Linked DNA regions of Homo sapiens. The protein of the gene in region 2 interacts with the protein of the main gene of each other region in a biochemical or structural test. Each region holds a gene or a part of one and is shown on either strand. Other genes may lie near its edges. The genes, in order: FOXP3 and IKZF4.

Region 1 (3,813 bases), on a different chromosome or scaffold from region 2:
AGTTGCAGAGCTGGCCTCAGCCCTGTCACCTCACCTACTTGGCCCCAGTCCTCTTCTCTTGTCACATGGGGATGGGGACACATAGCTATGCTCATGGGACTACAATACGGCCTCCTCCTCTCCTGAGACAGGGATTGGGAGGTCGGGGAGAGCCTCCAATCTCTGAGGCCTGGCAGGTGGGGATTTTCTTGGCCCTGCAACATCTGCATAAGTCACAGACTTGCCTGGGACCCAGAAACCACTTCCTGTGCCCCAGCCAGCCCCCCTCCCGCCCAGTGCCACAGTAAAGGTCGGCACCTGTAGGTCCAGGTACCCCACCCTGCCTGCCCCATCCTGGGCCCAGGGCCTCACCTGCAGCTGCGATGGTGGCATGGGGTTCAAGGAAGAAGAGGAGGCATGGGCCCCGCCTCGAAGATCTCGGCCCTGGAAGGTTCCCCCTGGGCCCCGGGCCCCCAGCAGGTCTGAGGCTTTGGGTGCAGCCCTCCAGCTGGGCGAGGCTCCTGGGGATGGGCCAAGGGCCAAGGAAGGGGCCGAGGGCTTGCCAGGCCTGGGGTTGGGCATCGGGTCCTTGTCCAAGGGCAGGCTGCGTAGACAATAGGGGAAAGGAGTCACACGTGTGCTAGGGCGGTATGAGATACTCGACCACCTGAGCCACGTGGACACTCCTCTGGTCAAAGCAGGCATTGGCTGGGACATGTCCCGAGGGGCCCCATAGTTGCACCCCAGCTCTAGACACACACACACACACACACACACACACACACCAAGAACACAGGTACATGTACATACCCACACATGCCCCACGTGCAGAGGTCCAGCACCTGGCTTGCCTGCCCACGCTAGCACAGCCCTGGTGTGGATGTGTCCTCTATGAGGGCAATGGTTGTTTCCCCCTCCACTTGAGAGCTGTTTCAAGCCTCAGGCCTCTAGCCCTCCCTGCACCCTGCACAGGCTGTGTTTGCTCATCTTGCCGGAGCTGGTCTCGGACTTTCTCCTCGGAGTCCTATTTTGCCCCAGTGACTAGGCATGGACTCAAAAGATTCATCTGGCTGCTGTGAGTGGGGCTAGTGAGGAGGCTATTGTAACAGTCCTGGCAAGTGATGATGCTGGCACAGAATGGGCTGGTGGCAGTGGAGAAGGCGAGAAGTGGGTAGATTCTGAGACTTAATCTGAAGCTGGATCAGGAGCAGTGCTAGCAGCTTGGATGTAGTGGGCAAGAGGGAGAGTCAAAGTGACATGGGTTTTAGCTTGAGCAGCTGGAAGGACCGAGCTGACATTACCTGAGATGGGGGACATGGCGGGGAGTTGGATTGGGTGCAAAAGTGCAGGTGTAGATAGACATGAAGAGTCTGGCATTAAATATGTGAGTGGAGGAGCTGAGGGGGCAGCTGAATACGGGGGTCTGGATCTCAGGGCAAGGAGGCGAGTCCAGGAGTGTGATCATGCACGGATCCAGCATGGCAAGTGACAGAGAGGAGGAGAGATGGGGTCTCTTGAGCTGGGGCCTGTAGAAGCTTCTCTACCCAGCCCCCATCAGAGTTCACCCCAATTTCTGGCCCTCAAGCCTGGCTCATGCTACACCCCCTGCCTCAAATGCCCACTCCTTCTCCTCTTTCCCTGTCCAAGCCACGCAAGACCTGCTCTTCTATTGTCCTCACCTTGAAAGCCCTCCACAATGGCTCCGGGCCCCCTGCTGAGCCCCAGAACCTTCCACTCCCTGAGGGAAGCACTGGCTTTTCAGGATCCTATAATCCTGGTCTGAGAGGAAGCCAGAGCTGGAAGGGACTGCCCAGCCAACCCCATTATACAGAAGGGGATGCTCAGATGCCGAGTTCCGTAGTCCCATAGTGACTTGAGAACTCCACTTCTTTCTTTAGGAAGTGTTTCCGTGTGCACATTTTATAAACTCTCTGGTGTGTGTGTGTGTGTGTCTCCATCTCCCCGTTCCACCTCACAGCACTGAGTTGGGCACACAGCTGCTGAGAGCAGCCCGGGGGAGTATAGAAGGGTTCTGGGGGAGCAGTTGCTCCTTCCTTTCTTTGCTGTCACCTCCTGGGGGTGGTTGTCAGAGCTGTGGTGCTGAGGGAGATGAGTGTGAGAATCCAGGTATTAAGTTCTTAGTCTCCTGGGGGCTTAGAACATTACTGCGTGAGAAACAGGAGTGTGGGTCTGTGGAGGCTCCGAACAAGGGCCTGGGAGAGCACTGGTGAGATGAGAAGGTGAGTGAATGAATGAAGCCAGAGATGGGGTGATGCTCCTTCAAGCCAAGAAATAACAAAGATTGCCAGCAACCACCAGAAGCTGGGGGAGAGGCCTGGAGCAGCTTCTCCCTTATGGCCCCCAGAAGGAACCAACCCTGGCAACACCTTGATCTTGGACTCTGGCCTCCAGAACTGTGAGATGATCAATTTCTGTTGCTGAAGCCACTCAGTTGTGGTACTTTGTTATAGCAGCCAGAACAAACTAATACCGATTTCGGTGCAAATGGATGTTTTCCACCACTCTGGCCTGGCCCATGTGGCTGGCCTGTGGTCACTTCTGAAGCTGCCTGGACACTTGGCCAGAGCTAAGAATTCTCCCCAAACACATGTGGGATGGCCTGACTCAGCAAAGCATAGATACATTCTCAGACAGGGACATGGAGATGATCTGTCTGGGGGTAGAGGACCTAGAGGGCCGGGCTGGGCAGCCGGCTTCCTGCACTGTCTGTTGGGACGTCCCTTTCTGACTGGGTTTCTCAGAAGCTGAATGGGGGATGTTTCTGGGACACAGATTATGTTTTCATATCGGGGTCTGCATCTGGGCCCTGTTGTCACAGCCCCCGACTTGCCCAGATTTTTCCGCCATTGACGTCATGGCGGCCGGATGCGCCGGGCTTCATCGACACCACGGAGGAAGAGAAGAGGGCAGATACCCCACCCCACAGGTTTCGTTCCGAGAACTGGCTGCCCTGTCCTGCAGCAGGCTTGGCCCAGGTGGGGTGACATGGGTGCTGGTGGATGTGGTAGGTGATGTCCATCTGGCCACTATGACAAGCCCCTAGCTCTGAAGACCTGGCCCTTCTTGGGTTGTGGAGAGGACCCAGGTTTGAAGCTCTGAGAGTGCCAGGCAGGCTCCACAGATACTGGGACCCCTGGGGTCTTCAAATAGTATAACACCAGGACCTCAGAATCATAGAACAGCATTTCTTAGATTTAAAGGATCCTAGAATCTCAAAACCACAGACTGTGGGGTCTACGGTCCCAAAGTCTCAGTATGTGTAGGCCAGTGTCCCTGGTGTCCAAACTCCTTGGAACCATCTGAAAGTCAGGCAGCTTGCTGCTTCATAGGGCCTCTTGCCTACCAGGCCTGGAAACAGAGCCAGCCTCCCTAGGGCCTCAGTCTCCCTGTCCACTCTGGAACAACGTTCCCAAATACATGGCCACTCCGCCAGAGATGGCAACAGGGGGAGGAGGAGGTTGAGGCTGGTGTGCCTTTGGTCTGGGCCTCATGGGGGGAGCTGGAAAAGCCTCAGCCTTCGCCAATACAGAGCCCATCATCAGACTCTCTAGAGGGGCCCCACAATCAAGGTTTTCGGGGACCAGCACCAGCTCTGGGGACACACAGCCTGACTGACTGACATGCCTCCATCATCACCACGCTCTGGCCAACTAGGCCTCCTGACCTATGGAGTCCGGGGCCTCACCTAGCCCAGCTCTTGTGAGGCTGGGCCCCACACTGTGATCGTGGATCGTCCAACCTGTGGGAAGTTGGGGTCCAACGTGTGAGAAGGCAGAAGGGGGAATGGTAGCCCAGGTTCCCCTTCCCCCTTCT
Region 2 (3,813 bases):
AAAAAAAAAAAAAAAGTAGAGAGTAGAACAGTGGTTACCAGAGGCTGACTGAGAAGGGTTGGGAGTAGGTGGATAGCGAGAGGCTGGTTAATGGGTACAAGATTACAGTTAGATGGGAGGCATAAGTTGTAGTGTTCCACAGCATAGTAGAATGACTGTAGTTAACAATAATTTATTGTATATTTCAAAATCGCTAGAAGAGATTATTTTGAATGTTCCCAATACAAAGAAATGATAAATGTTTGCTGGGCATGGTGGCTCACGCCTGTCATCCTAGCCTTTGGGAGGCTGAGGCAGACAGATCATGAGGTCAGGAGATTGAGACCATCCTGGCTAACATGGTGAAACCCGTCTCTACTAAAAATACAAAAAATTAGCTGGGCATGGTGGTGGGCGCCTGTAGTCCCAGCTACTGGGAGGCTGAGGCAGGAGAATCGCTTGAACCCAGGAGGTAGAGGTTGCAGTGAGCCGAGATCGTGCCACTGCACTCCAGCCTAGGCAACAGAGTAAGACTCTGTCTCCAAAAAAAAGAAGAAAAAAAGATAAATGTTTGAGGTGACAGATATGCCAGTTACCCCAACTTGATCATTACATGTCGTATACATGTATGAAAATATCATATGTATCTCATAAACATGTATAATTATTATGTATCAATTATCAATTAAAATTTGAAAAAAAAGAAAGCGGTTGGAGGATCATTCCTCTCCCAGATGTTAAACTGTTTCCCCAAGGGTCTTTGGGTGGATAGGGACCATGGTGTTCATTTCATCCCTAAAATACAAGAGTTTACAGAGCCTGAGTAAAATCCAGTAGATTGATTTAGTCAAGGCCCAGCTTTGGCATGGCAAGGTTAGGGGTGAATAGTAATTACCAGCTTCCTAGAGATACCTTCTCCTGTCTCCCTGCTCAATAGCAGCAAGATACATCAAATATACAATACGTTGTTTCTCTCCACTTTTTTCTCTCCTCTCACAAATATCTCTTAAGAGTTATCTTTAAATGAAGTACCACTCTGTTTTCCAATTTTCTTTCTTCGGTAGAAACAAGACCTTTATAACCTGTTCCTTATTACAAGCACATAAACAAACAAACCCAAATTTGGTGTTCTCTTTTTTTTACTCTTCTTTATTTTCTTCTCTGTTCTTTTATTCTTTTTCTCTTTTCAGAATTACTCTATCAGTGATGGGCTTTCTAGACCTCTCTTGGTATCTCAGCGTAGAGAGACAGAGAGACAAAATAATCAGTAAACCAGGCTAGGGCTGGAGGTCAAAATACAAGTAAAGGTCAATGAAAACTGCCCCCTCCCCACATTGGCAGATCTAAGGGCTCTCATTTCTGTCATGCCAGCCCACCAGTTTCCCCCAAACCAAAGCAGATAGTTCATAAAAAGCAAAAAATCCCCTTGTCTGATAAACAGCACTTACATCCGCCTGCCAAATGGAAAGGTTAAACCACAGTCTGGGCCCCAGACTCTGAGATCCTGCAGTGGGGCCTGCCTGTCTGCTAGGGATGATCCTCTACAAAGTCCCTGGGTCCTCACTTCCTTTAAGCAACAATTTGGCCATCTTGAACAAACCCACCACCAGTCTGAAGCCACATGCCCTAGGATTCCCTTGCCCCCATAACTGCACATTATCCTTCATCATCAAATATTGTTCATCTGTCCGCGGTTGCAGTTGAAGTTGGGAAATGAAAGACAAGTAGAAGAACTCAATTTAGCAACATCCTTTCCTTCCCATGCCAGTGTATACTTGCTCTTGGCTGAATCTGCAGAGCCAGGGCACAGCGAGAAATAGCTCTGATGCCATCTTTCCACTCTCCTCCACAGTCTCCTCTCCCACAGTGGGCAAGCCCTACAAGTGTAACTACTGTGGCCGGAGCTACAAACAGCAGAGTACCCTGGAGGAGCACAAGGAGCGGTGCCATAACTACCTACAGAGTCTCAGCACTGAAGCCCAAGCTTTGGCTGGCCAACCAGGTAGGGCTATTGATGTACTACTGGGGAGTTAAAAGGGGATGGTGAGAGGGAGTGCTAGACAAGGGTGACTCCAGTATCTCCCACACTGAGGGATGAAGTCTGTGGAACAGGGGATGATTACCCCAGTAAATCTGCCAAACACCCCATTCTAGGTAACCCAGTTGGTGGAGAGCCTTGTCTGTGGTGGGTGCTTTAGGGAGATCGACAGGTAGGGGAAGTTTGGGTCTATATCCTTGGCCTAATGGGAGAGAGAGAACACAAGAAGTATAAAACCAAGGGCCAGATGTGTATGATTGTCCCCAAATGATCTGAAATTTTATTGGAGTGAGCTTTAGGTAGGGTAAACAGAGCCCAGTTTCCCAGGCAACTGGTATGTCCTTCCTTGGCTACTGACCTGCTGGTTTTCTCCAGGCAAAGGCTGTGGGGCCAATGCTACCCCTACTCAACTGCTACTACTGTCTCCACCTTCTTCCCACTAGGTGACGAAATACGTGACCTGGAGATGGTGCCAGACTCCATGCTGCACTCATCCTCTGAGCGGCCAACTTTCATCGATCGTCTGGCCAATAGCCTCACCAAACGCAAGCGTTCCACACCCCAGAAGTTTGTAGGTAAGAATCCAGTTGGAAAGACGTATCAGCTTTAAGCCACAGCTCAAATAAATCTGAGCTGTGTGGTCTGGAGATTCGGTTTGGGGAAAGAAAGCAGTCTGGTGGGCTGGGTGCAGTGGCTCACGTCTGTAATCCCAGCACTTTGGGAGGCCAAGGTGGGCAGATCAAGAGGTCAGAAGATCAAGACCATCCCGGTTAACACAGTGAAACCCCCTCTCTACTAAAAATACAAAAAATTAGCCGGGCGTGGTGGCGGGCACCTGTAGTCCCAGCTACTCGGGAGGCTGAAGCAGGAGAATGGTGTGAACCTGGGAGGCGGAGCTTGCAGTGAGCGGAGATCGCGCCACTGCACTCCATCCATCCTGGGCAACAGAGCAAGACTCCGTCTCAAAAGAAAAAAGAAAAAAGGAAAGAAAGAAAGCAGGCTGGTGGCCTCTGATACTGAAAATCTATCCTCAGGACAGGAGGAAAGTAAAGAGGGAGGATGTACTCAAAGAGAGTGGAGAAGGGTTGGCACTGAAGACTCTCGTGGTGGTTGTAAGGGACAGGGTCGAGGCATCGGGCTGTCTCAGTTTTTTGTTTGTTTGTTTGTTTTTGAGACGGAGTCTTGCTCTGTCGCCCAGGCTAGAATGCAGTGGCACGATCTCGGCTCACTGCAACCTCTGTCTCCCAGGTTCACGCCATTCTCCTGCCTCAGCCTCCCGAGTAGCTGGGACTACAGACGCCTGCCACCATGCCCGGCTAATTTTTTTTGTATTTTTAGTAGAGACGGGGTTTCACCGTGTTAGCCAGGATGGTCTTAATCTCCTGACCTCATGATCTGCCCGCCTCAGCCTCCCAAAGTGCTGGGATTACAGGCGTGAGCCACCGCGCCCGGCCCGGGCTATCTCAGTTTTTAAGAATAACAAGAACTTCAGTCTGTGTGGGCCCTTAGAGAGTCAGAGAGAGGAAATAAGTATGTGGTTCCCCCTATCCCCAGCACTAGTCATGAGCTCTCTAAGGACCTGGAGCTTTATGGAGAGTAATAAAATGAAGTATTAAAAATCAATGGGCTGGGATTGAGTCCTTCTCTAAGATTATAGCCTAGAGTCAGGGAGCAGTCCCACAAAGGACCTGACCCTGCGAAAGTAAATGCCACGTAGTAAATAATGTTACACCCAGCCCCACAGGTAAAAAAACAAAGAAGTAATCCTGAGGAGAGTGTAGGAATTCTCCAAACCC

What was found.
Region 1: the proteins of IKZF4 (region 2) and FOXP3 form a complex in vitro, tested with the Homo sapiens proteins (one study listed by BioGRID).

Annotation. Positions count from the first base shown.
Region 1 is NC_000023.11:49,257,945-49,261,757, forward strand, and holds part of FOXP3 (forkhead box protein P3), read right to left. Parts: intron 584-3,813; 5' UTR 562-583; coding exon 352-561; intron 1-351. UniProt on the Homo sapiens protein: Transcriptional regulator which is crucial for the development and inhibitory function of regulatory T-cells (Treg).
Region 2 is NC_000012.12:56,030,730-56,034,542, forward strand, and holds part of IKZF4 (zinc finger protein Eos), read left to right. Parts: intron 1-1,831; coding exon 1,832-1,981; intron 1,982-2,460; coding exon 2,461-2,592; intron 2,593-3,813. UniProt on the Homo sapiens protein: DNA-binding protein that binds to the 5'GGGAATRCC-3' Ikaros-binding sequence. Transcriptional repressor. Interacts with SPI1 and MITF to repress transcription of the CTSK and ACP5 promoters via recruitment of corepressors SIN3A and CTBP2.